3 separate regions of the Homo sapiens genome follow, and regions 2 and 3 are each linked to region 1. The links come from fine-mapping of genetic effects on gene expression. A gene starts in region 1. Each other region holds a variant in brackets. All regions are shown on one strand. Distances are between the middles of the regions.

Region 1 (10,734 bases):
AATAAGAAGCAAAGTTTTTCAGAGTCTACCTTACAAATACTTTTCATCTGAAACCATCCAGCAACATTTACTGGCCCAAATGAACTATGGGTGTGAATAGTTTCATTCTATTGGTCATTAATGTACCAAACAGAGTCTTTCTTAAAGAGGTATCAAAGCCACAGTGGAAACTGTATCCGACGCTCCAAATAAACTCTAACCAAGGATGGGAAACTCGGAATCATGGAGTTGTTTGTGGATTTGGCTAAAAGTCAGGCATGTTTTGAGGCTTTAAACACTGATTATTTATATCCAACAAATAGTTTGTGAAAAAGGAGAGAGGGAAGAAATGGGATATGGAAATTGTGTATCTCAAGAAAGAGCCAATCATTTTCCCTCCTAACCAGAGCATGGCAGAAGGGAGAAGAAAAGGAAAAGAGCTTGCCCTTTGTGGAAAGCTGAGCTTTTCCTGAAAGTCTGACAGGCAGAGAAACAAAGTTTGGATCCTGCAAGATCGTTCCTGTAACCAGATCAAGTTCCTCCTGTTTGCTGGAGGCCCTTGGGTCTCCCGTCACAACTGCACCCAGCTCACGGGCACAGGCAGGTGCATACCCTGCCCGTAGAGTCATCTTTCATAGACTTCCCTGCTGGATCCGGGCAAATAGTGTTTCCAGAAAAAGCGAATCCAGCTTTCTGTGCCACCACCCTGGGATCTGGTACTGTGTCATGGGAAGGCATGCAGGGACTTGCCTCCTGACCCCACTGCCAGGAGGGGTGCTGGTTTGATCACTCCTGACCCCTTCCCGCCAGCATTTATGATCTTAGACACTTACTCACCTTCCAACCATGTGAGGCAATTAAGAATGATTGCCTCTGAATCAAGGGCAAATCATCCACCAGTTTCCTGGCCAAGGTTTGAGTGGGAGGAACAGCTTGTGTGAAATCCTTTAACGGTGACAAAATGCTTAACAATCTTGATGGCAGTGGTCAGTTAGGGTAACGAACATAGGGCGGTCTGACCTCCAGCTCATGTTTTCCTGTGTTCACTTTCTACCTGGTAATGGTGAGCTCATCCTAATCCCCCTGGGGTAGCCCCCATCCGGGTAGGAGGCTACTGTTGGCCCCTGCACAGATGGGTCTAGCCCACCAGCCTCCCCCCCACGACCCCACCACAGGGTGGCAGTTGCGAGCACACGCCTAGAAGCCCTGCCTTTCTTTGGCCTCTCCCAGAGAATGAAATTTCAGCATTTGTACAGCTCAGACCCACTGGCTGAAACTTCTACCTCCTGGCTCAAACTTCTACCTCCTGCTTCCCTGAGTGAAGTAACTGACAGAGGAAGTAATACTTCCAACTGGATTTTAGAGTTCCTGAGTCTAGTCTATGTTTAGTCTATCTCTATTTCCCTGTCCCTCCCCCACGCCCTAAACTGACATTTCGTAGGTTTCTGGTAAATTACCGAGTCCAGAGTTGGAAGCCCTAAGTGGTATTTATTTTACTTCAAATCACCTTTAGTCATCAGAATCACCTGGAGGGCGTGTTAAAGCAGGAGCTGGCCTGAGAATGTGCACTTCTAACAGGTTTGCAGGGGATCCTGCTGCACTCTGGGACAAGGCTTTGAGACCTGCTAGCCGCAGGAAGTCTTTTCCTCTCTTTCCTCCCTTCCTAGCTGTGCCTCTCCCTGAAGCCCACCTACAGGAGAGACGGGAAAACGTTATGGGCAGTGTTGTCTCAAGAAGGAATGTCAGGATAATTGGAATAAACAAAAGAAGAACTTGAATAACTGATCACAGTCACCGTTGATCCTTTCCCCAGGAAATAGTACTTTTTGTTTTTATTTTCTTCCATGAACTAGCCTTTTATCCATAGCAGAGAGGTTTTCTCTCAAGAAGAAACAGGATCTGAACAGGATCTGAACCTTAATTCTTCTTCTGGTGGGAGTTCAGTCCATTTCCTTCTTATTCTGGATTAATTTCCCCTTTGCCATTGAATAAAACAGAGGACTTTACAAAGGGCCTACTTCATGCCAAGTAATGTGTTAATAGTTCTAAGTGGTTTATGTGCATCTCAAAAGACCTTCGCCACAATTTCACAGACTATATGTTATTAGCCCATTTTACAAACTAGCAAACTGAGGGTTAGGGAAGTTTTGTAGTTACTGGAGATCATAGTAGTCATAGATAGAACAGAGATTCAAATCCTGGCTTGACTTCAAAGATCAAGCTATGCTGCCATAGACAGCATTACGCTTTCTATAGTGAAAGACTTGTCACAAACAATTCTGTGATCTGTCACTTATTCAATACACATATTTATTAAGCACATACTATGTGCCATGCTCTATAATTAATTAGGTCCTAGGAATATAATGATGTACAAGATGGATGGAACTTTTCAAAACATATTTTCTTAGATTGTCTCATGAAAATTTGTTTTTAATACTTTGTCCTTCGATGGAATTGCTCATGAAAGCATATGTCATTAAACCCAGAAATTGCATTCCCCTCCTCAATTTCTTGCCATCCTCCTTTGACTTACTATTAATATCAGTTTAACAAATTTGTTTCCTATTTTCCTTAAAGGAGTCTGTTGCTTTTATTTTTAAAATATATTTAGTTTTTGGGCCAGGCATGGTCGCCCACGCCTGTAATTTCAGCACTTTGGGAGGCCAAGTGGGTGGATCACAAGATCAGGAGATCAAGACCATCCTGGCTAACATGATGAAACCTCGTGTCTACTAAAATTATAAAAAATTAGCCGGGTATGGTGGCACATGCCTGTAGTCCCAGCTACTCAGGAGGCTGAGGCAGGAGAATCGCTTGCACCTGGGAGGCAGAGGTTTCAGTGAGCCAAGACAGTGCCACTGTACTCCAGCATGGGCAACAGAGCAAGACTCCATCTCAAATACATATATATATACACACACACACATATATATATACACACATATATATACATATATACACATATATATACATATATACATACAGATACATATATACATATACATACATGTGTATATGTGTGTATATGTGTATATGTATATATGTATATATACGTGTATATATACACGTATATATACACATATATACATGTATATGTACATACATACGTATATATACGTATATATATATTCGTGTATATATACGTATATATGTATATATTCGTGTATATATATATTTAGTTTTTGAATGAGTACATTAACATAGCTCAAAATTTACAAGAAATAAAAATGTGTACAGTAAAAATTAATCTCCTTTCCACCCCATGACCCCTAGCCACTCAGATCTCCCCAGAAGCAACCGCTTATAAATATACATTGTCTTCCCCCGTCCTTTCTTTGCTCATGAACACAAATGGTTGGTTTCTACCTACAAAGTGTTCTCTACTTTTATTTTTCTCAGTTGATTTATCTTGGAGATCATGCCAAATCAGTAAATATAGTTACCTCGTTCATTTTAACAGCCGCATATGTAAATAATTCTAAAATGCACCATACTGTATTTAACTAAGCCCTTGTTGACGAACACATAACATGGCCCAGTATTTTTCTATTACAAACAATTCTACAATGACTACTCTTGTGTGTCTATCGTTTTACACAGGAGCAAGTATATCTACAAGATAATTTCCTATAAAGGGAAATGCTGGGTAAAGAGAAAATGGTATGTTCATCTGTAATTTAAAAATGTTTTCATTATGGAATTTTTCAAGCATTACAAAAGGAGACAGACTAGTAAGATGAACTGCTGCATATCCATCATCAAGCTTCAGCGATTATCCACAATCCATGGCTGATAGTATTTCGTATATATATAGGCCCTATCCATTTCCCCACCCCAAATTATTTTGAAACAACTCCAGGCATAATGTTATTTCACTAGGAAATATTTTGGCACTGTTCTTGAAAAGCAAGGACTTAAGAAAAGAAAAATATATGTGTGTGTGTAATCACATTATCACCCCTAACATAAATTGTTCATTAATACTAGAAAATATCCTGTCAGTGTCATATTTTCCAAGGTTGTCTCATAAAAATTGATTTTCTACTAGTTTATTCTTTGATTAGAATCCAATAAGATCCAAAAAAAAAAAAAAAAAAGAATCCAATAAGATCCATACATGGCAGTTGGCTAAGTCTTTTTTTAATCTCTTGGTTCTGTCTCCATCTCTCTTGTTTTTCTTTGTGCATCGTTGTTGTAGAAACTGGGTATGTTTGTTTCCAGAGTCCGGATTTTACTGACCCTATCGAATGACCACAGGGTCATTTAAAATGTTCTGCTACCCATTAGGTCAAAAATTAAACACAAAATTAAATTGCAGAATTTCTTAATAATAAAACACAACATAGCTGAACCTATGTGACACAGCTAAAGCAGTTATTAGAAGAAAAATAACAGAACTAAATAACTCTATCAGTAAAAAAGCAAAGCTAAATGGATTACACCCGTAAGTCAGAAAGCTAAAAAAAAAAAAAAAATTAAAATATAAGACAAAAGGAATCAGAAAGAAGATAAATGCAGAATTAATGTTTCATCATTTTAGGGCTTGTTTTTACAAACTGAAGCTTAAGACTCACCATTTGAGAACTAGGAGACCATTTCCTAATTTGTAACGATATCAACAACACATCTAGGTAGCTGTCAGGGGCTGGGAGCCTTTTCTACACAAACTTTGCTCTGAATTTCAAAATACTAGCCTGTCTTGACACTTAGTGGAAATTCAGGTAGGGTGGCCTTAACTCAGGTTCTTCAGGAAAGCGTCCTGTTTCAGGGACACAGTGGGGTGGGGTCGGGGGAGGGCTGTATTCCGCACATCTAGTTCTGGCTGGGCTTATGGCAAGTCTCAGTCCTCTGGAGTCACCTGAGTGACTGAGGGATGAGAGGCATTTCTGATCCCGTAATATACTTACATGGCTTTGCCATCTACCACATCCCAGTTCAAATCTCAGCTGGCACAGTTACCGTTCACGTGGCCTGGAGCAAATCTGAGCTGAACTTTCCTCACCGTAAATCTGGTAAAAATCTTTACCTTAAAGGAGTGTGGATCAAATGAGATACCAGGTAGAGCTAGTGCTCACCGAGTGGAAGCTAAGGTGATGAAGCCCCTTTATTCTCAAGTTCTGTGATTCCATGATGGAGACCCATGAGGCCTACCAGACGGAGAGTATCAATTAAAAGAAAGCAATCACGGAGTTCTTCCCGCCTTCTCTGGAGGATGTATTCCTATGAGCTGCCCCGAATGTTAAAAATAATACACCTGCCCCCAAAGTGCCGAGGACGCCTTTGTGGTCCACCTACTCATCGTCCACCGGTTTCTGCAAGTGGACCGGTTACCTGCTCAGGAGCAAATGTTTCCATCACGACGCACCCTCTCCCAGGGATGGGCTCAACCTGTGCTCTCCCTGCGACAATGCTGAACAGTGCCATCTGTCCCTACCCAGCGTCAGCGTCACGCAGAGGGCCCGGGCTTGGAATGTGGGAGGCACGCTCCCAGCTCACTTTGGTTTTCCCGCCCTGGAGGGGAATCCAAGATGTCTAACTAGTCTTCTGGCCCCGAGAGGGAGAGGTGGGGATAGGACCTTCCTTTAGTCCCCTCCGTAGTGGAACGAAGGATTCTTTATGGTCATCTGTGGTGTTCATTTCGTAAAGAAGCATCTGCAGGGTAAGAAGGAAAAACGTCCACCTTGCAAATATATCCCAGGCACATGCCTCCTGAGAAGTGACCCCCTCCTCCCTCCGCCTCCCCCGGCACGTCCTGGGGCTTCTCCAGTCTCCCGCTCCTGGGACCAGGCAGAGATCCCGGCGTGGGCAGACCCCTGCCACCGCGCCCAGGCCTCGTCCGAAACTCGCGCCCGAGAGCCCACGCCGGAGGCGACGCTCCCGATAACTACTGTGCTCCCAAGACCCGGAGGGCACGAAGAAAGGAGCCCTGGCAAACAAAGGGTACGGGCCGGGACCGCCGCAGCCCGGGGCGGGGGCACGGCAACCGCGAGGCCTGGGGGCGCCCGCCCCCCGCGCCCCACGCCCGGTGCCAGCGAGCCGAGGCGTGCATCTCCTTATATGGTCAAATGACACGGCGGGGTTTCTCGAGGGCGGGAGCTGCGCAGCGCTCCACTCGGCCGGCAGCGGAGCCGCAGCCACCAGCCGCCCGCGCCCTCCAGCCCCGTCCGGGAGTCCCCGGCCCGCTGCGGTGCCGTGAGTACCTCCAACCCCCTGCGCCCCGGAGGGAGGCCGAGGGGCTTAGCCACCAGGGCTCGGAAGTGGGGGCCGAATCCGGTGCGAGACCCAAGGAGAGGGGAGCAGAGCCGGAGTTGGGGAGACTGGTGAGAGGAGAGCAGAGCTGTGGGTCCGGGAAGACCACTGGGAGAGGGGACCCGAACCGTGCGGGGAGAAGCCGGGAGAAAGGAGTTGAGCTGTGGGGTAGACCCGGGAGAGGAGAGCCGAACCCTGGGGGTTGGGGGTGGGGAGACCACGGGGAGAGGGGAGCGGAGCAATGGGAGGGGTCTAGACCCTGGGGGCGCTGGAGCTCAGAGGAGCCCACCGACTCATCCCCAGAGGGAGGACTGCAGCCCGCGTCCTCACCAGGTGGGGCACCGCCATGCGGGCAGGGACCGGGCGAGCCTGGGTAAAGGCTGGCCGCGGGTCCCAGCCGGCGGCTGCGGGGAGGTGACGCTGTCCGCCTGCTTCCAGGCCCGACTCCCGAGCGGGCTGTCCTGGCACGGTGGTCTGCGCGGGGGAGTCCGGGCCATTTCCCTTTAGTAGAAATAAGTGGAGTTTGCAGTGTGACCTCGCTCCTTGACTCAGGTAGACATTTAATAACTGAACCATTCGGTTAAAACAAAAATGGCTTATTTTAAATGAAAAGATTCTAAGTTTTTCTTAAGTCGCACTCGTGTGATATCTTAGCATACCAGAAATAGAGGGAAGAAAATATTGAGTGTTTTTCTGATTTTAAATGAATCAGTCATATTTATTTTCATATCCTCAGTCGGGTTTTAACTGGAAGTAGGCTAATCCGGTTAGCTGAAATGTGTAGCTGGCTTGCAAGCAGCAGTGTACTTAGACATCACTGAACTTAAGGCCCGCACTCCCTTCCACATATTTTGGAAGGTAATAAATCACAATTTGGGTTTAGAATCAGGAGAACTGTCTTCAAAACACAACTCCCAATACATCTCACATTTTTGGTGCTGACTCTACTAATGAGTGTTTTATAATAATATATTAAAGAAAAGAGGTTTTGCACTATCCTGAAGATGTTTTAGACAAAAAAAAACAAAAAACAAAAAAACAAAAACCATTTGCATCAAGTCTTAGAAGTACAGGAATTCCTAGTCTATCAATTAAACTTTAATAAAACCAAACTCAAAGAACATTTCATTGTGCATTTATATAAAATTTTGTCAAGTGTTACTGGATTTAGATCACCCCCCAGTTTAGAAGATCATCAGTTAATACACAGAATTGTGTTTCCACGGTGTTTATTAGCCTGCCATGGTTTAAAATGCGTTTACACCATAACATGTCGATGAAGGCTAATGATGGGCTTACTACAGACCAGAAACTGTTCTGGGCACATAGGTTCTGTCTCATTTTAGCTCACCGTCTCACAAATAGCCACAGGCAGATGCAGTAGGCTAGGGGATGCCGGGGACTGCATGTAGGCTGCCTAAATTTACATCCGGGTCCCTCAACCTGTGCAGCCTGGGCCAAGTCACTTAATCTCGTAGTGTCTCGGTTTTCTCCACTGGGAAACAGGGACAATGATGTTGTCTTTTTGTTAGGGTTGTTAAGAAGCCTGGACATCATAGACAGTGTATACATATTTGATAGCCTCATTTTTACAGGTAAAGACACTGAAAACAGAGATCAAAGTAACTTTAACTCAGGGTTTCCCGGGCTGTAAATGGTAGCCCTGAGATCTGACCCCAGGCAGCTTAACTGGAGAACCTGAGTTCTAACCACTAAACGCACCACGGGAGGAACATTTGAATATTTATTTATTTTTTTTAACATTTGAATATTTCTATGAGGCCTTATGATGCATACTTTGACCCAAGATTGCGTGTTAAACCATTTCCAGTACTGAAAGATATTTAAATTGCAGTCAAAAACGCCCAATAGAATATTGCCAAAAAAAAAAAAAAAAAAAAACAGACTAGATATCAGGAGTAGTTTACTCCTGTCCTGTGCCGAGGGCCAGTTACTCAGCCTCAGTGACTCAGGCAGCCTCCTTTGTCAGCACCGGGCCTGAGTCGCTAAGCGGCTCTCTGACTCAGATGCCCTGAGGTACAAAGTTCCTTGAGCTTGGGTGAATGGAAACATTAGACATTGGGTTCTTCTGTGCGGTTTTATTATGAGAATTTGATCAAAGCCACATTTATTAAGTGTCCATCTCAAGTTGCATTATACTGAGTTCGCTTCCTCAAGATGACCATCTGAAACAAAACACGTGTGCTTTCTCTAGTGGCTGAGAACTGTGTCTTCCTGGAGACTAGGCTGGCATTTTGACTTTGGGGTGAGTCAAGTGAATTTCCTCTGTTATCCTAAATTGTGGATTTCAGTTTTAGCTACTGTGATGGTTACTTTCATGTGTCAACTTGACTGGGCCATGCGGTGCCCAAACATTCAGTCATATGTTCTGGGTGTGTCTGGGAGGGTGTTTTTGGATGAGATTGACATATGAATGGGTAGACTGAGTAAAGCAGGCTGCTCTCCATAATGTGAGTGGGCCTTGTCCAAACAGTTGAAGGCCTGAATAGAACAAAAAAACTGAGTAAGAGGGAAGCCCCCCTGCCGGACTGCTTGAGCTGGGACATTGGTCCTTTCCGCCTTTGGACTCACACTGAAACATCGGCTCTTCTTGGGTCTATAGAGTCTCCTCTTTTCAGACTGCAATTTGCACCATCGGCTCTCCTGGGTCTCCAGCCTACTGACTGCAGGTCTTGGGACTTTTTCACCTTCGTAATTGTGTGAGCTAAATCATTGCGATAAATCTCTCTATGTACATCTCTTGTTGGTTCTATTTTTCTAGAAAACCCTGACTATTACAGCTCTCTGGTAACATCTATTTAAAAAGTCTCCCCACCAACTGTCATTCTCCCTTTTTTTAAGATTTGATCACTACTTTGCTCCTGGGAGTCTTGGCTTTCCTCTTGCTGTAAAACATGCTCTCTGCATGGGGATGTCACGAGGGGTCTGGAGCAGCGTCTGGTCTCCCAGGTCCATCCCAGTGCTCGTGGGTGGTGTCTTGCCTGGTGTGAACTTAGACTTCACACTCATCCTCAGCCTTCGGTGGCCCACGCCTTTACTAGCCTGATTCTGTCTGCGGCTTCAAGATCCTCCCGTCATATGGTCTTGAGTGAGATGTGGGATGTCTGTGGCAGAAGCAGCTGCCCTGTTTTCATGGGTGAACAGAATTAATGCCAGAATGTCCTTGCAGTATGTAAATATGGAGCTTGTCAGTCAACAAGGAAATAGACCTGTCTGCTTGGGTTAATACAACTTTTGGAGTCACTAAGAAGCAGGCAGTCAATGAAGGAAGCAGAAGGAACTGTGCAAGCCTCTCGGGACAGAGTCCTGTTGCAGTGCGCCAGAGAAACCCCACAGAGTGGCAGGACTGCAGTGAGAAGGAGGTGGCCAGTCATTCATGGAAGCTGCTGGATGCCAAGAGAAAGGCCAGCATGGGGGTGGGGGTCATAGGCACCTCAGATAGCTGGGAGAGTGAACAGTGAGCCGCACTTGGGAGGTGAGAGGAGACCCCTGCCATGAAGAAGAGTGGGTGGTTTTCGTTTTGTAGGTGTAGAAGTGTTCGTAACTCACTCAGGGAAGGCATGGTAGAGCCATAGCATGCAGGATGGAGTCTCCCTTGGTCCCCACACTGGTGTGATTGACGGACCCGAGGCCACCCGCCATTCTAGCGTGTGCAGCTATGGTTGTCCTGCATGGCTGCAATTGATGTGTTTTGAGATTAAATGACAAGATGGGATCTTAAAGGTGATTTAAATTATTTGGAGCTAGAACTAGACTGGAACTCCTTCATAGACTGTGTGTTTTATCTCAGCTTCCCAGTGCCTCACGTAGCACATGGAAAACAGTGGTTACTCAACACATTCTTGTCGGCTGGGTTCAAAAGGCTGAACGACATCAAAACAAGTGTAACTCCTCTTGTAGTCATGGACTTCAGATCAGAAATTTGATATTTATTGTTTTCCCTTTATTTTTAGTATTCAATATTCAAAAGATAATTCAGAAGACAGCAGTTTACCTTATTCAAACATTGCCTCATGCAGAACCACCAGAGATGAAGATGTTTATTTATTTTTTTTAAGTTGGAAGTTACCAGTTTATGTAAACTATAATACACCTCTGACACCTGTCTGTACATGCATTTAGTAAAGGCTTATTAAATTAATCTGTAAATATATTATACAGTGGTAAGCATAGTCAATTTTATACCTTACAAACTAAGATTGTTTAAAATCCAACAATTTAAAAATAGATTTCAAGTGGATGCTAGATACTTTTTTTCTTTCTTTCTTTTTTCTCTTTCTTTCTTTCTTTCCTTCTTTTCTTTTTTTTTTCCCAGGGTCTCATTCTGTTGCTCAGGCTGGAGTGCAGTAGCTTTTCACAGGTGCCATCATAGCTCACTAAAGCCTCAAACCCCTGGGCTCAAGCAGTCCTCCTGCCTCAGTCTCCCAGGTAGCTAGGACTGTAGGCACACATCACCATATCCAACTGATATAAATTTTTTTT
Region 2 (10,734 bases), 20 kb before region 1:
TTCCTCTTTTACTAATCCACCTCAGCACAGACCCTTTACGGGTGTTGGGCTGGGGGACAGTCAGGTCTTTCTCATCCCACAAGGCCATATTTCAGACTATCACATGGGGAGAAACCTTGGACAATACCCTGCTTTCAAGGGCAGAGTTCCCTGCGGCTTTCTGCAGTGCATTGTGCCCCTGGTTTATTGAGACTAGAGAATGGCAATGACCTTTACCAAGTATACTGCTTGTAAATATTTTGTTAACAAGGCACGTCCTGCACAGCCCTAGGTCCCTTAAAACCTTGATTTTATACAACACATGTTTTTGTGAGCTCCAAGTTGGGTCAAAGTGGCTGAGGCAAAGTGGCTGGGGCAAAGCTACAAATTAACAACATCTCAGCAAAGCAATTGTTTAAAGTACAGGTCTTTTTCAAAATGGAGTCTCTTATGTCTTCCCTTTCTACATAGACACAGTGACAGTCTGATCTCTCTTTCTTTTCCCTACAATATATATATACTTTAAGTTCTGGGGTACATGTACGGAATGTGCAGGTTTGTTACATAGGTACACATGTGCCACGGTGGTTTGCTGCAACCATCAATCCATCATCTACATTAGGTATTTCTCCTAATGCTATCCCTCTCCCAGGCCCCCACTCCCTGACAGGTCCTGGTGTGTGATGTTCCCCTCCGTGTGTCCATGTGTTCTCATTGTTCAACTCCCACTTATGAGTGAGAACATGTGGTGTTTGGTTTTCTGTTCCTGTGTTAGCTTGCTGAGAATGTTCCAGCTTCATCCATTTCCCTGCAAAGGACATGAACTTATCCTTTTTATGGCTGCATAGTATTCCATGGTGTATATGTGCCACTTTTTCTTTACCCAGTCTATCATTGATGGGCATTTGGGTTGGTTCCAAGTCTTTGCTATTGTGAACAGTGCCACAATAAACATATGTGTGCATGTATCTTTATAGCAGAATGATTTATAATCCTTTGGGTATATACCCAGTAATGGGATTGCTGGGTGAAATGGTAATTCTAGTTCTAGATCCTTGAGGAATAGCCACACTGTCTTCCACAATGGTTGAACTAATTTACACTCCCACCAACAATGTAAAAGTGCTCCTATTTCTCCACATCCTCTCCAGCATCTGTTGTTTCCTGACTTTTTAATGATCAGCATTCTAACTGGCATGAGATGGTATCTCGTTGTGGTTTTGATTTGCGTTTCTCTGATGGCCAGTGATGATGAGCATTTTTTCATGTGTCTGTTGGCTGCATAAATGTCTTCTTTTGAGAAGCGTCTGTTCATATCCTTTGCCCACTTTTTGATGGGGTTGTTTGTTTTTTCTTGTAAATTTGTTTAAGTTCTTGTAGATTCTGGATATTAGCCCTTTGTCAGATGGCTTAGATTGCAAAAATTTTCTCCCATTCTGTAGGTTGCCTGTTCAACTCTGATGATAGTTGATTTTACTGTTCAGAAGCTCTTTAGTTTAATTAGATCCCATTTGTCTATTTGGGCTTTTGTTGCCATTGCTTTTGGTGTTTTAGTCATGAAGTCTTTGCCCATGCCTATGTCCTGAATGGTATTGCCTAGGTTTTCTTCTAGGGTTTTTATGGTTTCAGGTCTTATGTTTAAGTCTTTAACCCATCTTGAGTCAATTTTTGTACAAGGTGTAAGGAAGGGATCCAGTTTCAGCTTTCTGCATATGGCTAGCCAGTTTTCCCAACACCATTTATATAATTGGGAATCCTTTCCCTATTTCTGTTGTTTGTCAGGTTTGTCAAAGATCAGATGGTTGTAGATGTGTGGTGTTGTTTCTGAGGCCTCTGTTATGTTCCACTGGTCTATATATCTGTTTTGGTACCAGTACCATGCTGTTTTTGTTACTGTAGCCTTGTAATATAGTTTGAAGTCAGGTAGTGTGATGGAAGTAAATACCTTTAACCAGAAAGACAAGACACAGAGATAAACATTCTTCCTGCTACAGAAATATGGTGGATTCCTCAATGGCTGTGATCTTTGAAAAGAGAAGCAACTGTTGTCTATCAAATAGCTAAAAATACTGTTAGAAGTATAAATATGTCCCCTGATATTGTCAGAAGTTTCATCGAAGCCTCAGGCAAGCAAAATGTGTCCTCTGTTTGTACCTCAATCTCTACTCCTGCAAAATGCAGATAATTATACCAGTAAAGGACTATTGTTAGAGTTGATGCAATAGGTTTATGAAATCTTCAAGTGGCTTGCAAATAATTCAAAATCGAACTGTAATTTCCAATCATTCTAAAAGCTTCATGTTTCATTTTTTGGAGACATTATTGCTCTGTTGGCTTTTTCTAACATATGGGTATCACTGACAGCCTCCATTCTGTACTAAAATCTAGAAGAATCTTCATTCCTCTGGGGGCAAACATCAGAGAGAGGAATGGAAGAGCTGCCCCAGGGACCTGACGCTTGATACCACTTCCTGAGTCAGGCCCAATGCAAGCATCCTCAGCTTGCTTTCCACTATGAGGGAGTTGTAATGGGTTCCCATGCCGTCTGAGCTGCAGGAAAAGGAAAGAAGTGGGAGAGTAAATTAGTGTTCTGACATTATTGACGGAAGACTTTACTCTCGTTTCCTAGTTATCTGAGAGGTACAGTGTCTATTGAGTAAAACTGTCAGAACGAAAAACAGTGGTTCTGCAATGATTTTGGTATCTTGTACAATGCAACCTGTAGTATAACTGATACAGACAATCCTTTTCTCAATCAAGTAATCAATTGATAAAATAAACAGGACAAAAAAATCAACCTAAAGATGCAATCTCGTGGCAGTATTAAACTCCAGACAGTATTTAATTTTGATTTCTCTCACCTGGAGCATTTTTTTTTTTTTTTTTTTGCCAGAGATGAATCACATCTGTCACAACAATAACAACAACAACAAATTAGCGGAAAATTGATTTTCATGGTCCTGTTGTCTCTAAGTGGCTTGTGGTTTAGTTTGTAGATCATGTCTTATCTAGAGCTATAATCCTATAATGAAAAAGTAAATTAAACCAAGAGGAAACTATAAATAAAAAAAATATTTCTCTTATATGTGATCCACTATTCCCATCACAGTTTTGCTTCCTAAGTAGTTTTGTCTTATCTGAGAAGCACCAAGGATCCATCCACATAGGGCCCCTGCAATTCCCATGCACATGACATGCACCTCCATATGCATCTTGCCACCAACTTGAGAATGCCAGGAGCTGGTTGTGGTTCACAAGGCATGGGAGTTCTTGCCATTCTCACCAATAACACCAGCATCTTGAAAACCCAAAGCATAAAAGCAAACAAGTTACAAACATAAGCAAACCAACACATCTTCAAGCCAAACAGCTGTTTCTTACTATGGCTTTTCCTTTCTGGTCCACAACGCGGCCAAGATTGCTGCTGGACATGCATGGTGTTGGAGGACTTGCATGTATGTGGGGAAGGACTGCCCTCCACCGTGATTCTTTCCTAGGGCAACTCCTCTGAGCTACGCTGCCAATGCACGCAACAGGACCCCAGGAGGGGCAAAAAGCTGATGGGAACAAAAAGATGTACCAGTGAACTCTGGTCTTAATATAAAACTAGCATGGTGGGTAATAGAAACATCTTTTCCATTAAATCAAAGAAACAGATCTGGAAAACTAAATCCTAGAATGTTGAGTCCCTGATGGCAGAGACTGCATTGCAAGCTCATGCATGGAACTGTGCCCTCTGCATCACAGAAGTGCCTCCATTTGACAGTTACGATATCAGTGTCATGAGGCTGGGATACCTCTCTTGGTCAATGCAAGCCATAGTATAACTGAGCTAGACACTTTCTCAATCAAGCAGCCTTTTGATAAAGAGGACACAAAAATCAACCTAAAGATGGAATTTGGTGGCAGTGTTAAACTGCAGACAGTATTTAATTTTGATTTCTTTCATCTGGAGCATTTTGTTGCCAGAGATCTGTCACAACAACAACAACAACAAAAAATGGGCAGAAAATTGATTTTCATCATCCTGATAGCATTTGTCCTAGAGACAGCATTTGTGTTAAGAGAATAGTGTTTGTCTTTTTGATCAGGAGAGTTGAGCTTATGGTCTTAACTTCAGGCATTGGGCCTTCTGTAGCGTGCTTGTGAATACTCCACCCAGCATCTACACTCCAGTGACCAGGCTTTTGGGTTGCTGGTCTTTGAACTTTGGCCTGTAACCTCAAGCAGGGCAGAACATTGCCACAAAGCCCCAGATCACTGACACCAAATCAAATTTGTGTGGACTCTGTCCCAGACATTCCATGTGAAACTGGCTGTCCTTACAAGCCAGAGAGAACCCAGTGACGATGGGAC[C/T]AGGGACAGTTCACTTTCTTCCCATTGGATTACCTTCTTTATCAAGGGAGCACTGGACCACATGGAGTCTGACCATAAACTGCATCTGTCTCATGAGCTGGATCCAGTATAGGACAGGGACACTGGGCCACCACTGGCTCTGTACAACCCCAGTGCCCCATTCTCATGGTGTGGATGGAGCCCCGTTTTCTCCTAAAACTTGTCCCACTAGTTCAGGGGTCCCCAGTCCCCAGGCCATAGACCGGTACTTGGTTCATGGCCTGTTAGGAACCCAGCCACACAGCAGGAGGTGAGCAGCAGGCGAGAAGCATTCCCCACTGAGCTCCACCTCCTGTCAGATCAGTGGAGGCGTTAGATACTTACAGGAGCATGAACCCTAATGTGAGCTGCACATGTGAGGGATCTAGGTTGCATGCCCCTTGTGAGAATCTAATGCCTGATTATCTGAGTTGGAACAGTTTCATCCTGAAACCCTCTGCCCCCCACCTCCCAATTCATGGAAAAATTGTCTTCCACAAAATGGGTCCCTGGTGCCAAAAAGGTTAGGGATATCTGCACTAGTTCCTCCTCGCCATCCCTCTCTCTGCCCCACATCTGTTAGATTCTTCCTCATGTTACTATTAGTTATGAATAATTTGCTACTATTATTAGTGAAGGTGTTATGGGTTGAGTGTCTCTCCCCCAAATTGATATGCTGAAGCCGTAACTCCTAATAACTCTATGGCCTTATTCGGAAATGGGGTTGTTACCGAGTAATTAGTTAAGAGGAGGTCATTAGGGTATCCCTAATCCAATATGAGTGGTGCCCTTGTAAAAGGGGATATTAGGGGGACATTTGGGCAGACGCACACACAGGGAGATACTATGTCCACGTGAAGACAGAGATCAGGGAAGTGAGTCTACAAGCCAAGGGATGCCAAAGATTGCCAGCAAACCACCAGCAGCTAGGGAGAGGCATGGAGCAAATGCTCCCTCACAGCCCTCAGAAGGGACCAACCCTGCTGACACCTTGATCTTGGACTTCCAGCTTCCAAAACTTGGAGACAATAAATTTCTGTTGTTTAAGCCATCCAGTGTGTGGTACTTTGTGATGACAGCCCTGGCAGACTAACACAATGGGGCATTGGGTGGCTTATCTTTGAGCAAATGAAGAACTGAATCCAAGCAGTCACTTCTCCTCTTGAGACCTTGGCCAATGCATCCCCTCCCACCCTCAACTGAACACTTTCCCTTAATGACAATGCATGTTCAGTCATACTGGACTATGTAGTATAGGGGAGGAAAATAAAACTTTTCCTCAACCTTCTTCTGTTCCTTAGCTGGGGTCTGTTAATTACACTGGCAAAAGTGAGACCATCAGGAGAAAAGACAGACAAATCTTATTTTATGTTATTATTTTAATTTTTATGTGAAGGGACATTCATAGAAAAGAAGTGAAGAACCAAAGAGGCTGTTAGACCCAGGAGTTTATATACCATTTTAACAAAGGGTGATAAATTTGCAGAGAAGTAACAAAACAAGCAAAAAGCAACCTGGGCTTCTAGGACTGGGAGAGTACACATATAGGGGAACCTAATGAAAGATAAGGGTGATATTGGTGAGGTTTGTTTGTGCAGACCTGTCTTGGTGCTGACTTTCTGTTTCCAGTGACAAGAGTTGGTCTCCTCTTGGTATGGAAGATGGGAGGAGAAACACCTTCACAAAGGGAAATTTATGTCCTCCTTTTTCTGCATTTGCTGCTTCTTAATTGCCTTCACCTCAAAACAATCCTTATACAAATGATGCAATAGACTTTGGGGACTCTTGGAGAAAGGGTGGGAAGGGGGTGAGGGATAAAAGACTACAAATTGGGTGCAGTGTCTACTGCTTGGGTGACGGGTGCACCCAAATTTCACAAATCACCACTAAAGAACTTACTTACGTAACCAAACACCACCAGTTCCGAAAAACCTATGAAAATAAAAAAATTTTTTAAAAATCCTTATGCCAAAGTGGCATATTCTGGTGTGACATATTTTGGTTTGGCATATTTTGATTCTCCAGTGGCCTTCTATAGATCTACATGTCTGTCTTTCTGATGTATGGGTATAGGAAAGCCTACTTTGTGGACAGACATATACTAAAGAAAATACTTGTATACAAATATTACACACCAGTCTCCCCTTATCTGGTGGGGATAAGTTCCAAGACTTGCAGTGCATGCCTGAAACTGTGGATAGTCCCAAACCCTGCATATACTATGTTTTTTCCTGTGTATACATACATATGATAAATTTTAACTTATAAACTAGTCACCGTAAGAGATTAACAATAAATAATAATAAAATAGAACAATTATAACAATATGCTGTAATAAAAGGTATGTGAATGTGGCCTCTCTCTGTCAAAATATTGTACTGTACTGTACTTAATCTATTTTCAGCCCCACAGTGGACCATGAGTAACTGAAAGCGTGGAAAGAGAAACTGCAGATAAGGGGAGCGGGAGGAGGGCGCTACTGTATGAATAAATACACTTTATAGAGAGATATATCCTTGAAGAAGAAATAGAATACTCTATGTCTGCGCATACTTTATCCACAGTTGTATTCATAAAAATGTAAAGTGCAGAACGGAAACTGCTCACTAAATCAGCTCAACTGAAATATCTGGATAATTAGTGGTACCTGGTCTTTTGGACCCAGTTCTCATGAAATGTGCAACTCTGACCTACTTATGAGATTAAAATGGGTTTTTTGTTTTTTTTTTGTTGATGTTGTTTGACCACCTGGGTCTCTGAGGCTTATTTTCAATAGGAGGAAAATAAGTGGTTTCTGTTGGGGAGAGTGTTTCCCTGTGGCCCAGGTGGCTTGCCCTGGTGCTTATCTGCCTGGTCCCCACATCTTTCAAACCAGAAGGCCCAGGAGTTAGGATATCCAGCTTAACAAGCCCAGCACTATCTCAATGATGAGCCCTTGGCAGCCTTGGGTGGCCATTCGCAGAGTCAAAAATAAGGACAGATATGAAACACTAGCTATACAGACTGTGTCTGAATCTCCACCATTTACCCACATGGTGGAAAATACACTACCTCCAGTCCTATTACAAAATATAATGACTTCCCCAGCCTAAAGTGTTTTAATTCTGTGGTTCTCAATGTGTGGTCCCTATACCCCTGAGTCCTTTTCAAGGAGTTTTTGTGGTTAAAGCTATTTTTTTGATACTATTAAGATATGACTCATCTTTTCACTGTGTTGACATTTATGCTGGTACAAAAGTTGTGGTGGGAAGACTCCTAGTGCCTTAGCAGGAATCAAGGTGGTGGCTCCAAACCAAACTAGTAATCATGATATTCTTCATCACCAAGCAGTAGGGGGAAAAAGAAAAGCCCAGCTGCATTCCAGAATGACCTTGACAAAACAACAGTAACAATTATTAATGTTATTAAATCTGGACCCTTAAACACACACATCCTCTTTTTTTCATTCTTTCTTTCTTTTTTTTTTTTTTTTTTTTGGAGATGGAGTCTCGCTGTATTGCCCAGGCTGGAGTGCAGTGACACAATCTTGACTCACTGCAACCTCCACCTCCCAGGTTCAAGCAGTTCTTCTGCCTCAGCCTCCTGAGTAGCTGGGACTACAGGCACACGCTGCCACACCTGGCTAATTTTCTGTATTTTAGTAGAGACTGAGTTTCACCATGTTGCCCAGGCTGATCGCGAACTCTGAGCTCAGACAATCTGCCCGCCTCAGTCTCCCGAATTGCTGGGATTACAGGCGTGAGCCACCGTGCCCAGCAACACATTTTTTTTTTCTTTTTTGAGATGGAGTCTAGCTCTGTTGCCAGGCTGGAGTTCAGTGGCAAGATCTTGGCTCACTGCAACCTCTGCCTCCTGGGTTCAAGCGATTCTCCTGCCTCAGCCTCCCGAGTAGCTGGGATTACAGGCACGTGCCACCATGCCCAGCTAATTTTTGTATTTTTAGTAGAGATGGGGTTTCACCGTGTTAGCCAGGATGGTCTCAGTCTCCTGACCTCTTGATCCACCCACCTTGGCCTCCCAAAGTGCTGGGATTACCGGCGTGAGCCACCGCGCCCGGCCGCAACACACATCTTTTTAGTATTCAGAGTGATGAAAGGGAAGATGCATGAAGCACTTCTGCTCATATCAAAGAACTGTGACTGTCTTGAGGAAAGGAAGTTGTGCAGTGGCCCAAGTCGTGAGTTCAACAAGATGTTTCTTCCATTTTCACTTGGAAGAACAACTGACAGACAAAGCATACTTAGATTTTGGCAGTAGATATTTTCCCAAAAATGCAGAGTAGCCTGTCATTCTAAGGGAAACAACTGACAGTATTTGTTTTTGTTTTCAAGGATAAAATTTGAGTTTTCAGGTGAAAATTAGCATTTTGGGAAACTGTGAGTGTGGCAGCTTCCCAGTGTGTAAAAACTTTCCTGATTAGATGGATGGTGATATCAATTACTGTAATTTGTTAATATTGTATAATGAAATGTATCAGCATTTGGAAGATCTATAGAAGCAATATTTTCTAAATCTAACAAAACAATGTGTAGGTTAAAGATCTGTTTAAAGCTTAAGATAGACCAAATGGGCTTTAATGTAATAGAATATGAAAAGTATTGATGTGATTTCAGATTCCACATTGCAATCTTTAAGCAGTAGTTAAGAAACATCTCTTTTTCAAATTTTGGTGTAGAATCTATCCATTTATAGAGAGAGATGATGATCTGAGATGGCTATCAAGATATTTCTCTTTTCCAACGACATTTCTGTATAAGGTTGCATTTCCTTCATAAATTTCAACCAAAACCACATACTCCACAGATCGAATGCAGAAGCAGACATGAGCATTGAGCTTTCCAGCTGTCTTCTATTAAGCTCAATGTTAAAGAGATTTGCAAAAATTCAAAACCACACCACTCTTCTTACTAGTTGTTTTGTTTTGGAAAGTGTAATTATTTTTCATGAAAACATTCTATGTTACCTGTTACGGATTTAATGTTAATTTTAAATGAATTAATTTTTTAGCTTCTAAGTTTTATTTTCTAATGCAGTAAATATAATAGATATAACCTACATAAACAAAAGCCCTTTGGGATTCTTAATAATATTAAAGAGTAGATAGGGCTGTACTCTTTGAGGCACTCTTTAAGAACAGGGGTTAAGAGTAGCTGGTTTAATTAAACTTGAAATTGATTGAATATGGTTCCACACACAGTTTCAATTCTTGTTAATATTCCCCATCTATTCCTATTGTATAAAACACTGAGTCAAAGACGTATTTTTTGCTGAAATCATCTAGATAATTGTACCATATGGGCCATTTTCCCACCATGGGGTACCATTCGGTTCCAAGGAGTCCCTGGTACTTAACTTGGGGTTAGGGCCACAAAGAAATAACTTAAAAACACAGGAATCCCGGTGCTTTTAAGAAATTTGCATTGCTTACTTCATTTGTTTATTTATTTATTGTTGGTTCTATTTTAGGAACAGTTTTTCTTCAGGCTGTTTCCCAACACATTTTAATGTGATTTTCAGACACGGTTTTCGTTCTTGCAAACTGTGTCACATATTATTTCCCTGCCCATTGTGAAGCCACCTTCAATCTCTGTTTAAAAGTGTTATTGAATTTAATTGTTTAAAGACATTATTTAAACCACCTTTGCTGTGGTAAGATATGCTGATTATTTATTTACTTTATATTATTTTAGTTATTAACAGGTAATCAATGCACACGGTGCAAAATTCAGAAGCAACAAAAAGAGAATAATTAAAAGTAATTTTCCCCCTCCCTCCATTCTCTTCCTTAGTTCTCCCCAGAAGCAACTACTATTGCCAACTCCTTGTGCATCCTTCCAGATATTCCAAACATGTATAATAGCCACACATCCTTTTCTTACAAATGGTAGGATACTCCACACAATGACTTGCACTTTCCTCTTTCACTTAACACCCTGTCTTGGAGATTGTCCCAGAGAGTGAGATTTTGCCTCACTATTTATAGCGGTGTAGCGCTTGCTCCATTGTATGGACGAATGACTTGACTCTGCCCCTACCTATAAACATTTAGATTGTTTCCCAACTTATGCTACCTTAAAGAATGTTCTAGTATCTGTATACATCTGCGTTTGTGTACAACAAACATATACTAATATAACTTTAAGGATCAAAAGATATGTAAGCCAACATTACTTAGACTACAGTTGTATTAGAGAAAATTGTAAGTCATAGGTTACTGAGGAATTGTAAAGAAGCTGGTGATATTGTGAAACAGATATTTGGTCTTCTTTCAGTTTCCTGATGTACAGCTCCTAAAATCCTTTAAATCTGGCCAGGCACAGTGGCTCACACTTGTAATCTTAGCACTTTGAGAGGCCAAGGTGGGTGGATCACTTGAAGCCA
Region 3 (10,734 bases), 21 kb after region 1:
GAGAAAAATATAATTATAAAAGCTTTAGCTGGAAAAGAAATACTTACGTAGGTGAGAGGTTCAGATATCATCTGGCAAAAGGTAAGTCTCACTTTCAAGGACAGATTTTGGATATTTGGGGCTAATCATCCCTGACCAGTGGCTGAAATAAAAACAAAACAAAAATCACTTGCTGTTTCTCCAGTGATTTAGTGGAAAGACCCTTAAAAGCCGTCATCCTTCCACGCATGTTTTATGAGCAAATAAACAAGAGTCTCCCAAATGGAGCCAAAATCATCAAGGCTGCTGTCAAGCCAGGAGTGAATTGTGCTGAACTTTTCAACCCGGATTAATGTTTTGAGATACGTGGGGTTACACTGTATGATTTTGTACATTTTGGAACAAAAAGAGACATTGAGTTGAAGCGAGACCTTGGCATTTGGGGCTTTTGATGCTTTAGGCGTGCTTTTCTTGACTTTCAAAAATAATCGGGTAGTTGGGTTTGTAGTGGAAGCAATGATAGAAAAAAATGTTCCTGTTTTTTTCTGGAAGTAAAGCCCACAATCCTGGCAGGCGGGGAGATACCTGATAGAGGAACTGTGCTCTTAGGTCTGGTGGCCAATCTCTTCTCTTAAAATAGCACAGCCACCACAGGCCTCAGCTACTTCCCTCTAAAGGACATGTTCATGTGTGTGAGTTTTAAATGTTGGCATGCCTATGGGAATTAGGCTAATTTTGAGAGTCCTGACCTACTTAAATGAGACAGGCAAGACTTCAGAGCCTGTTATATAGTTTGAACATCCTCTCTATGTAGCCACTGAATTGTAATCTTTATTTCTATTAAGTTACTCTGGGAAAATGCTGTGATCTCAAAGGGTAAAGATTATTGATTTGTATGGCCAGTGTAATAGTGGAGAATAGACAATGCTAATACAATTTTATGATCCTCTGACATTACATGCTTCCTGAACCTTTTCTTGGATACCTGTTAGCATTAACAAAATATTTTCGTAGACTGATTACAGAGTTTTTGGGGGATCTGCCTACGTTCTGGGCTTCAAAAATTCAACCAACTAAAGAAAAAATAGGGCTGGGCACAGTGGCCCACGCCTGTAATTCCAGCACTTTGGGAGGCCGAGGCAGGTGGAACACTTGAGGCCAGGAGCTGGAGACCAGCCTGGCCAACATGGCGAAACCCCGTCTCTACTAAAAATACAAAAATAAGCTGGGTGTGGTGGCGTGCACCTGTAATCCCAGCTACTTGGGAGGCTGAGGCAGGAGAATCATTTGAACCTGGAAGGTAGAGGTTGCAGTGAGCCAAGATTGCGCCACTGTACTCCAGCCTGGGTGACAGAGCAAGACTCCATCTTAAAAAAATAAAAATAAAAAATAGGCTGGCCAATAACTCCAGAGACAGCTGCTAATACTGTGCATTTAACAAATTGGTGATTTTAAGCCCTGGGCGACACACGTAACCTAGACTTTGAATGTTCCATGGGTCTGCAAGCAATGCCATGAAATTGGACTGGCCACCATACCCACCCATGTGCTTGGAGGGTGCTACAAAGAGAAAAAAAAAATAATAAACAAGAACAAAAGATCTGCAGATCAGAAACTAGCATTCAGGGTTTAGTTTCTAGTGGTAGTCTTTGAAACCACTGTGTATTGCCTGATGACTTGTTCCAGGCACTTGTAAATGCCTAAACTGCATGATCTAAATTTCTCCTAACACCCTATAGGTAGGAACTTTTTTCATTCCATTTTATGGAGTAGCCGCTGAGGCCTAGAGAGGATGAGGATCTTGCCAAGGGTTAAAGGGATTAGGAAGTATCCGAGGTACAATTTGAGCCCAGACCCGGAGGGTCCTCACCTAGCATGTGATGCCACCTGCTACCTGCAGCCTCGGGCAGGACCCTGTCTATGTGACTCTCGGGCCAGATGTGGTCAGTCCTTATGAGTAAGAGATGGTGACCACCTGGCCTCAATCAAGTGACCTTCAGTCAGAGGCCCCTACTCTTCTCATGGGCCCCTTTAGATGGTGATGATTACATTGCAGAATTGAGGCTCAAGTTGTTTCACAAACTCTCTTTCCAGCTTTTGTAGCTAATAGGAAACATTGAAGTGATGATCAAATTGGCTGTAAAAGTCTCAGTTAATGTTTGGTAATGGACAGAAATGTTCAGTGATATTTTGGCAGAAAGCAACCTGGCAGGGCTCTGAAATAGGAGACGAAGGTTTTCACACATACAGGTTAAATCTAGATGCCCCTAGTATATTTTGGAAGGTTTCTGACCAAGCCTAGTGAAAGGTGTAAGGTCAGGTTTGAAAAACCCACCCTTCTGTCCTCGGTGTAACACAGGCCTCCCTCGCTGGTCTTTCTGGACCCTTTTCTGGGAAGAGCACCTACTCCAGTCACATTCTCAGGGTCCAGCCTGCCAACCTGGTGCTTTTTTATTTGTTGGGGTGGTTTTTAAGTTCTCAATGAGCAAATTACCTTCTTGGATCTTCTTCCGTGTAGAATTTGTCCACAGAGTTTGTAACGAGCACTGAAAACGCGTATTTATTTGGATTTCCTCCTAAAAGACAAAAATCTGTCTGTGAAGGGAATTTAATCAAGCAGGGTCCTAGGATCAGAAGCAAAGCTGTCTGGATGGATTTCATGAGAAGGGCCTGTCAGTGCACGAACTTGGCCTGTCAGTGCATAAAACCAAAAGTTCAGCCACAAGACATAGCAGCAGAGGTGCACAGCGCTCAGCAGTGACCTCGCATGCACCGAGGCTGGACCCCGGAACCAAATCTCCCTGGCTCCACCTTTGACAAGCTGCGCGAAGGGGACAAGTCCTGCCACCTATAAGCCTCCGTTTCCATGTCTATACACTGGGGTTCCTAGCTCACGGGACTGTCGGGGTAATTGAGTGAGTTAACGTCTAGGGAGCACCTGTGACATGCCAACACAGTGCTGTCATTTCTGCTGTTGTCCATTTTTCTGCATCTTTATTTGTAAGGATTTGAAAGAATGTACAGTTGGAAACCTGATGATCTCAAGCAGAAAATATCTTTTCATAACGCTGAGCATGAATGACATGAGAATCCATGTCTGAAGTGAAATCGTATGGATCTGAAGAATGGTTGGTGCCAGCCCTGGTGGAATGGGGTGCGAAGGAGGGAGGATGAGAGCCAGACGTTTCAGTCTGGGTGACCCTGCCACCCAGAGCCACCTTCCATTAACTGAGGGGTCCAGGGCTCCCTCCAGGCCACTTGCCACTAAAGCTCAGCTAAAGTCTCAAAAAGGACACATTCGGAGCCAAGCAACAGGCACAGCCCATGTTAGGAATGTTTCTGCAATGGAAAAATACAAAACCAGAAAGGAAGTGTGTGGGCCTAATCGTACATGTTTATCAACATTTTACTGCAATGTATGACATTTCTGTGAGCACAAGATTAGCCTTGGTATTTTTTTCTGGGAAGTATAAAAGACTTTTTTTTTCTTTCTTTTTGTTTTCAATTTCTCTCTAGAGGAATTTAAAACCGGATATTTCCATCTTAAAGTTCTTGAGCAAGTCTGTCAAGGTGTCCATATTTCTTACCCTGTTCCTCTCAGCATCGAAGTGCTATCTCTGTTACACTCATGTTTGCTGTTCACAATGGAGTACTAATGAAATAGCAAAATTAAGCTACCGGCATGGTGCTAATAACTGAAACTAAAAATCGGTTTGGAGCTTTTCTGTTTGGAAAGAGTCACTTGAGCCGGGCGTGGTGGCTCATGCCTGTAATTCCAGCACTTTGGGAGGCTGAGGCAGGAGGATCACTTAAGGCCAAGAGTTTGAGACCAGCCTGGGCAATATAGCAAGACCCCTGTCTCTAAACAGATAGATGATAGATAGACAGACAGAACAGATAGATAGAAGAAAAGAAAAGGGTCACTTGGCACTAGGTCTTCACAGGTAAAGATTCAGAGTGTGATAGGAAGCACAGGCTCAGGCACCCGGGTCTAATCAATGACAATCTCGCTTCTAGGCCTTTTGGTGGCATTTTCTAGTCTACCTCTAAGCTCTAGGGAATCGTGTGGCTAAAATCTTCCCTCCTGCTGAGACTCAGAGAATACCATGTTGGCCAAGATCTCTAAAACAATCAAACCTGGCAGTATTGAGTTACCTTCCTCTTATCATAAAGTCTTTCCTCACTTCCTCCTTATTGTGAACTTTCTTAAGAAGCGAGTCCAGGAGGAAGCAGTGACATGAATTTATTAACTTGACTCAGACTTCTAAAGACAACACAAACTGGGCGCCCCATTCAGAGAGTGACAGGGAAACCCCGTGGCATAATTAGTTACCTACGAGTTTCCAAATAGGATTTGGAAGGAGACATACAAACTAGGTCGCCGGCGTGGCACATGGCTTCCCTGAAGCCAGCATTGCCCTGGCCAAGGAAGCTTTGCAGAACAGATGAGATTTCAGCTGGGACTTGCAGCCAAGTGGGATTTGGCCTTTTGGGGAGAAGGGAAAGGGCATTCAAAGGCCAGGGACAGAGTATGGTCAAAGGCATGGAGATGAGGAAGAGGGGACCAGAGCAGAGGGTCAGGTTGGAAAGCGAGTTGGGGTCAATCTGCAAAGGGGCTGACGTGCCAGGTAAAAAACAGGAGCACAGTTTAGTTTTGTCGGATCATTTCAGGTGGAAGGGCAGTGGGAATGTTGGAGAAAACACTTTTTGGTGTCGTTACATTGAATCTGCTCATCTATAAGAATAAAACTTTATTTCATAGAGTTATCGTATGGCTCAAAATAGGTATGAAGAATTAAGAAAAAGAATTTTAGATTTAAAATGAAAAAGCACCTACAAAAGTAGAGTGGTAGAGTTACCAACGTGGAGCTTTAAGGTGGCAGATATTCTCATTGATAGGACTGTCTTCATAAGGAAATGTAGGTTCAGCAAGTGACACATTGAGGCAACTCTTCTCATTATTAGCTGTGGTCTAAATAATGACTTATACTAACATCCATTGAGCAATTGTAATACATACCAGCAACTGTTATACATGCTTGTTACAGCCAGTAGTGGGTCCATTATTCCTGCTGTACAGGTCAGAAATCTGGCAAGAGAGGTTCAATTACTTCCCAATGGTGATGTACGTGGCATAGGGCAGAGCCAGGATTTAAGTTTAGTCAATCTGGCATTTGGGCCCTTGAATTGAACCCCTAGGGTGAAATAACCAAGCAATTTAATCACGTGCTCCTGGGATCCCAGAGGGGCGGGCGCTTGACCCACAGTGATACAAGAGATGTGGACTGTGGGACCTCATGCTCTCCCATCCTGCTTGCATGCAGCAGGCATTCAGGCATTTCTGGCCCAGGAAGCCCACCACCCTGTACTGCAGCAGGGAGGTGGGCCAGTTCTGTTCCCACTGAGGACCCACCAACAACAATGATGCAAGCTTGTTTACAGAGTATTTTTAGTTATTGTACACCACAAAACTTAAGAACGTGAGCATAGGTTAATATTTATCTTCAGGGAAAAGAGTTTCCTTTAGAAGGTTTTAGAATTAGGAACTGCTGCACGCATATTCACTCAGGAATGCTTGTGTGTGCAGTCATAAAGGTAGGCTGAGAGAAACGTTGCGGAGCTGAGTGCAGATGGCCCCAGGGAATGATGCCGAGATAACGCAGCCCTGGGCAGGCAAAGGCACTTTGTGGAAGGCACTCTGTCTTTTGTTTCTTAGGACAAAACCTGGATCTCTGCATGCCCCAACCCGAATGGGATGGGGAGCACTTTCAGGTGTCCACTCTACACCAGCCTGAAGGGAAAGGGCAGCATCTGGCAGGAGCCAAGGCGAAATGGTTCCCAGGGGATATAGCAGACCAGGTTGTCCTGAGAGAATGCGGCCTTCACCTTGCGAGGTGGGATCCGATAGAGCAGGGTGTGGGGGGACAGGCTGCGCCTGCAGAAGGTCTCCAAGTCTTGCATGGATGCTTAGTCCAGTAACATGTGGATAATATCCACATTTAGAGGGACAGTTTCAAGTGTCACGTGTCAATGAATCAGTCTTAAACTGTAGCTATTGCATTTTTGTGCCATAAATATTAACTGTAGGAAAAATGGAATTCTGCAGTGCCTTGGACCCATGTGCATGTCTTAGCCAGCTTTTCCATGTCTGTGCAGGCATGCTGATGTGCTCTTTCCTCCATCTGGGGACTTAATGACCGGAGCACTGGCTGTGGTGACATCTAGTGGCTTTGCTTTCCTGTTGACCTTGGAGATTTCTCTCTCAGTTTTTCTTGAAGGTCAGTCCCAAAAGGCAAATTTTCTAGAAATTGTATTTCTCTTCCCTCTCTTGTCACTGATAACTTGCCACCCCTCTGGGCGTAATGCCTCCTCCCTGGGCAGGGCAGCCACCATGTAAAAAGCAACTATCTTCCCAGAGAGAGGCCAAGGATCTCCTCCCCTCTCCCTGGCGCCTACTCCTTCAGGTCTCTTGTCCCAGCCAGACAGTGACTCTTGGGTCATGGAAAACATTCTGCAGCTTTTCCCCAAACGAGCAGTCCTCTATGAGGTGGCTCGCCTGCACAGGGGGACAGAGGTAACTTCTGAAACGGTGTTTTTTACCTGCTACATAACAATCAAAACTTACTTTTTTTTCTTTTGGAGACAGTTTCACTCTTGTTGCCCAGGCTGGAGTGCAATGGTGCGATCTTGGCTCACTGCAACCTCCACCCTCCACCTCCCGGGTTCAAGATTCTCCTGCCTCAGCCTCCTGAGTAGCTGGGATTACAGGCATGCACCACCACGCCTGGCTAATTTTTGTATTTTTAGTAGAGATGGGGTTTAACCATGTTGGCCAGGCTGGTCTCGAACTCATGACCTCAGGTGATCCGCCTGCCTCGGCCTCCCAAAGTGCTGGGATTACAGGCGTGAGCCACCTCGCCTGGCCAAAACTTACTTTTTTATTCTTTTAATTATGGTAAAATACACAGAACATCACACTTACCTTCTTAACCACTGTTAAGAGTACTGTTCAGTAGTAAGTGCATTCAGATGGCTGTGCAACCAATCCCCAGAGCTTTTGCTTCTTGCAAATCTGAAATACTACCCCCATCAAGCCCATTTACGCCTAGTATTCCATTAGTGGAATGCTAAGCATGTGGGAGTTATGTATATCTTACTGCTCAAGATCATCGCCAAGGTCTGATTGCAGAAATTCAAAAAATTGCAACCTCAGGCATGAATGGGTTACAGAACACATTCTCACTCCCATTCCCCTCTCATCCCAGCCCCTGGCAACCACTCTTCTACTTTCTGTCTCCATGAATGTGACTTCCCTAAGTATCTCACATGTGTGAGATCATGCAGTATTTGTCCTTTTGTGACCGATTTGTCGTTTCACTTAACGTCATGTCCTCAAGATTCATCCATGCTGTAGCATGAGTCAGAATTCCTTTCCTTTCTAAGGCTGAATAAAATTCCATTGTATGCACAGACCACATTTTGTTTACCCCTTCACCTATTGATAGACATCTGGCTTGCTCCCACCTTTTGGCTATGGTGAATAATTCTTCAATGAACGTGGATGTACAAATATATCTTC[G/C]AGACCTTACTTTTAATTCTTTTGGGTATATATCCAAAAGTACAATTGCTGAATCATATGGTAATTCTACTTTTAATATCAGCCATGGTGTTTTCCACACAAAATTTATTCTTAATGCATTTCTTCCACAATCAGCATTCTAACAGTGATAACATGAATAAAATCTCCATCTCTTCTTAAATTAGGCAGATTACTGTTTTGGGTGGATAGGGCTTCTAATGATTTGTTCAATTTTATTCAAAGTCTAAACAAAGGCAATACTGAGCCACATTCATTTAGGTACAAAATATGTTCTAGAAAGTTGCCAGAGTTTGGTCGTTTCTGGATTTTTTTAAATGAACACACACACACATCTCCTCAAGGCTATCTGTTTTGAAAGCAAAGAGTAACACAGACCCGACCAGGATTTTGCCTGGGCTGGTTCAGTGGAAATAACTTTCGCATCAGGAGGACTTGAGCTCGAAGCTTGGCTTAGCTCCGTGCCAGGTATGTGACTGGGCAAGTTACGGAACTTCTCTGACCTTCAGTAATAACATTTACCTTGCAGGGCTGTGCCGTGCCTGGAGCTCACAGATGGGGTAATGATGGTCATCACTAGTGTTTCAGATGTCTTTTTGAAGCCGGGGCGTGTGCATGGAAAGAATGGAGACCATGCCTGTTCCCGAACGATGATGATGTCCATGTGGATTGTGGGCTTTGCTGTTTCTCATGAGTTCACATGTGTAGACATCAACTCAAATCAAAGCAGTTTGTCCTCTATTTCACTTGTCAAAATAACCAATAAAGCACAGGTGATGTTCCCCTCAGATTTCTGAAAATACTTTAAGCTAAAAATACAAAAGACAGGTTAGCCCTCTGCCCCCAACTCCCAGTGCATACCCAGTTTGGGTTCTCAAGGATGAAGAGGGCTTGGGCATTTCAGCAACCTGCCCCCGAGTCCCCCTGACAGGCAGTGCCTACCCCAGGGGACCCACAATACCCAGAGGTGCTGGGCTCAGGTGAGAATGAATTCCGCAGAAACAAGGGCATTTAGTCCAGCTTTGAGAGCACTCTATGCTCCTCTCACCTTCATTCCTTTTGTTTTGAGACTGAGTCTCCTTCTGTCACCAAGGCTGTGCAACCTCCACCTCCCAGGTTCAAGCGATTCTCCTGCCTCAGCTTCCCAAGTAGCTGGGACTAAAGGCATGCACCACCACGCCCGGCTAATGTTTGTATTTTTAGTGGAGATAGGGTTTCGCCATGTTGGCCAGGCTTGTCTTGAACTCCTGACCTCTCCTTCATTCTTTATCGTCTTGCGTCAGCAATAATCCTATTCCCAGATGTTCTAGGAAGCAAACTTCCAACAGGGATAGCACAAGAGGTCACCCCTCACAAAGGCCATAGTCATGACTGTCTTCAAAGTGTCTCAGCGTTCACATTTTTAAAATTCCTTGAACTAAAACAAAATGCGCAAAGAGATCACTAAATCAAATAACTAGTTTGGTTCCAGGTTCCGGGAAAACACACATACATGCACACATGTGCACACGCACGCGCACACACACACACACACACACACACATACTTCAGCAAAAGAGAACTGTTTGTTCTAGTTTTGGTTCCGAGTTAGCTGGTGTTTTAGGACTTTCTAATCAAGGCCAAGATCCATGTCTTCACATCCTACATTCAGCATAACTCCAGCTTCGACTTCGGTTTCAGTAACAGAGACATCGTGGGCAGGCTCTTCTTCAGGGCCATCGCGTGAACAGCCCTCCTGTGCCCTGTTCAGGATACCTACCAACTGGAAGCCTGCCCAGGAAACCGTGCAGAGCCTAATACTCTGTTTCTGCCTCATGTATAAATGGATGATGATTTGGGGTCAGAGCTGGGAACACAAAGACAGCAATAGAAACATATCCTTTCTAAGATAAAGCTGGGCATAAAGAGATTGTTATTTTAATTTTGTGTTGGCACTTTAAAAATGCCGTATGTCATTTTTAAAAGGCAAATATGGAGGGTTCTCTTATTCCTCAGGCAAGATGAAGCCAAGTGTGGAGTCGAGTTTTCTGCGGGGCTCCTTTCTCTCCCTCATCTTTTACTCAAAAGCACACGTCTGTCTTCTCAGGGCCTCTCTCATGTGTGCTCAGTTTTTGTCTCACTTCTCCCACCCTCACGCCCCTCCACTCCCACATCCTTACCCGTCCCCCAGTCTGAGCACTTCACTCTCCTGTTGAAAAGCAGCTGTCCACTGCCTTCAGGATCAATGGAATCTCTACACAGACATAAAAGGCAAAAAGGCAGCCATATCTTCCAGTCCAGCCAGGCCGGGGGGCCCTCCCACCTCGCCCCTGGCCTGTGGTCCCTCCAATCTGACATGCCCCCCGTCCCCAGATCTTCTGTGTCTGTGCTCTTTCTCTGCCTGAAATTCCCTTCCTCCCCCAGCTCACGGCCACCCACAGAGGTAGCACCCACACACACAGTCTCTCCTGACCGTCTCCCACCAAACAGTCCTTGGGCCTCCTGTGAACATCCCGACACCCAGAGCCTCTCTGCCATGCCGGTGACCACAGTGATCTGAGTTGGGCAGGGCTCCCTCAGCCAAGGATGTCCTGCAGTCTGTTTCTCTGTCACCGGATGTGGTGTGAGACGAATTGATAGGTGTTCATGTTTTCTGTTTCTCTTTCTTGCAGGCAATACATAAGGGAAATCCCTTTGTTTTTTAGAAGCATCTCTCACACACAGACATGTGCATACATGCACATCTGTCTAACCTGTTGCTCTAAAATGCAGCAAGAGAAAAGCAGCCTAGTCTTAATTGATTTCAGCAGTTAGGTGGTCCTGGGGCATGAATGTGGGTGCGCCAGGGTGCCTCGGCCCAACTTCTTTCCTTGTTTGCCCTGCAGATTCGCAAGGGGCCCCTATGCTGTGGGTCCAAGCCCTCCTGTCCTGCCTCTGACTGTCTTGTGTGGTCTGGCCCCACAGGACTTGTCTTACAAGGACCGGCACTGGCATGAAGCCTGTTTCCACTGCTCGCAGTGCAGAAACTCACTGGTGGACAAGCCCTTTGCTGCCAAGGAGGACCAGCTGCTCTGTACAGACTGCTATTCCAACGAGTACTCATCCAAGTGCCAGGAATGCAAGAAGACCATCATGCCAGGTCAGGAGGCACTCCTTTCTCATGCGTGAGCCAGTCTAGC

What was found. PIP is the estimated chance that this variant, and not a neighbour inherited with it, causes the effect.
Region 2: its variant is the best candidate, but not a certain one, in a credible set for the expression of FHL2 in whole blood (INTERVAL, PIP 0.51).
Region 3: its variant is the best candidate, but not a certain one, in a credible set for the expression of FHL2 in whole blood (TOPMed, PIP 0.74).

Annotation. Positions count from the first base shown.
Region 1 is chr2:105,394,410-105,405,143 of GRCh38, reverse strand. FHL2 (four and a half LIM domains 2) reads left to right here and starts at 6,093. Exons shown (of 7, transcript NM_001318895.3): 1 at 6,093-6,302; 2 at 8,447-8,497. RefSeq lists silencers at 5,990-6,119, 6,140-6,359 and an enhancer at 5,490-6,312.
Region 2 is chr2:105,414,780-105,425,513 of GRCh38, reverse strand. It overlaps a transcript of FHL2 not described here. Among named protein-coding and RNA genes, the nearest start is that of FHL2, 21 kb to the right of the region's middle. The variant C/T (reference allele first, on the strand shown) is at 4,336.
Region 3 is chr2:105,373,519-105,384,252 of GRCh38, reverse strand. FHL2 (four and a half LIM domains 2) reads left to right here. Exons shown (of 7, transcript NM_001318895.3): 4 at 10,520-10,694. It also overlaps a transcript of C2orf49 not described here. Among named protein-coding and RNA genes, the nearest start is that of FHL2, 20 kb to the left of the region's middle. RefSeq lists an enhancer at 10,079-10,358. The variant G/C (reference allele first, on the strand shown) is at 7,559.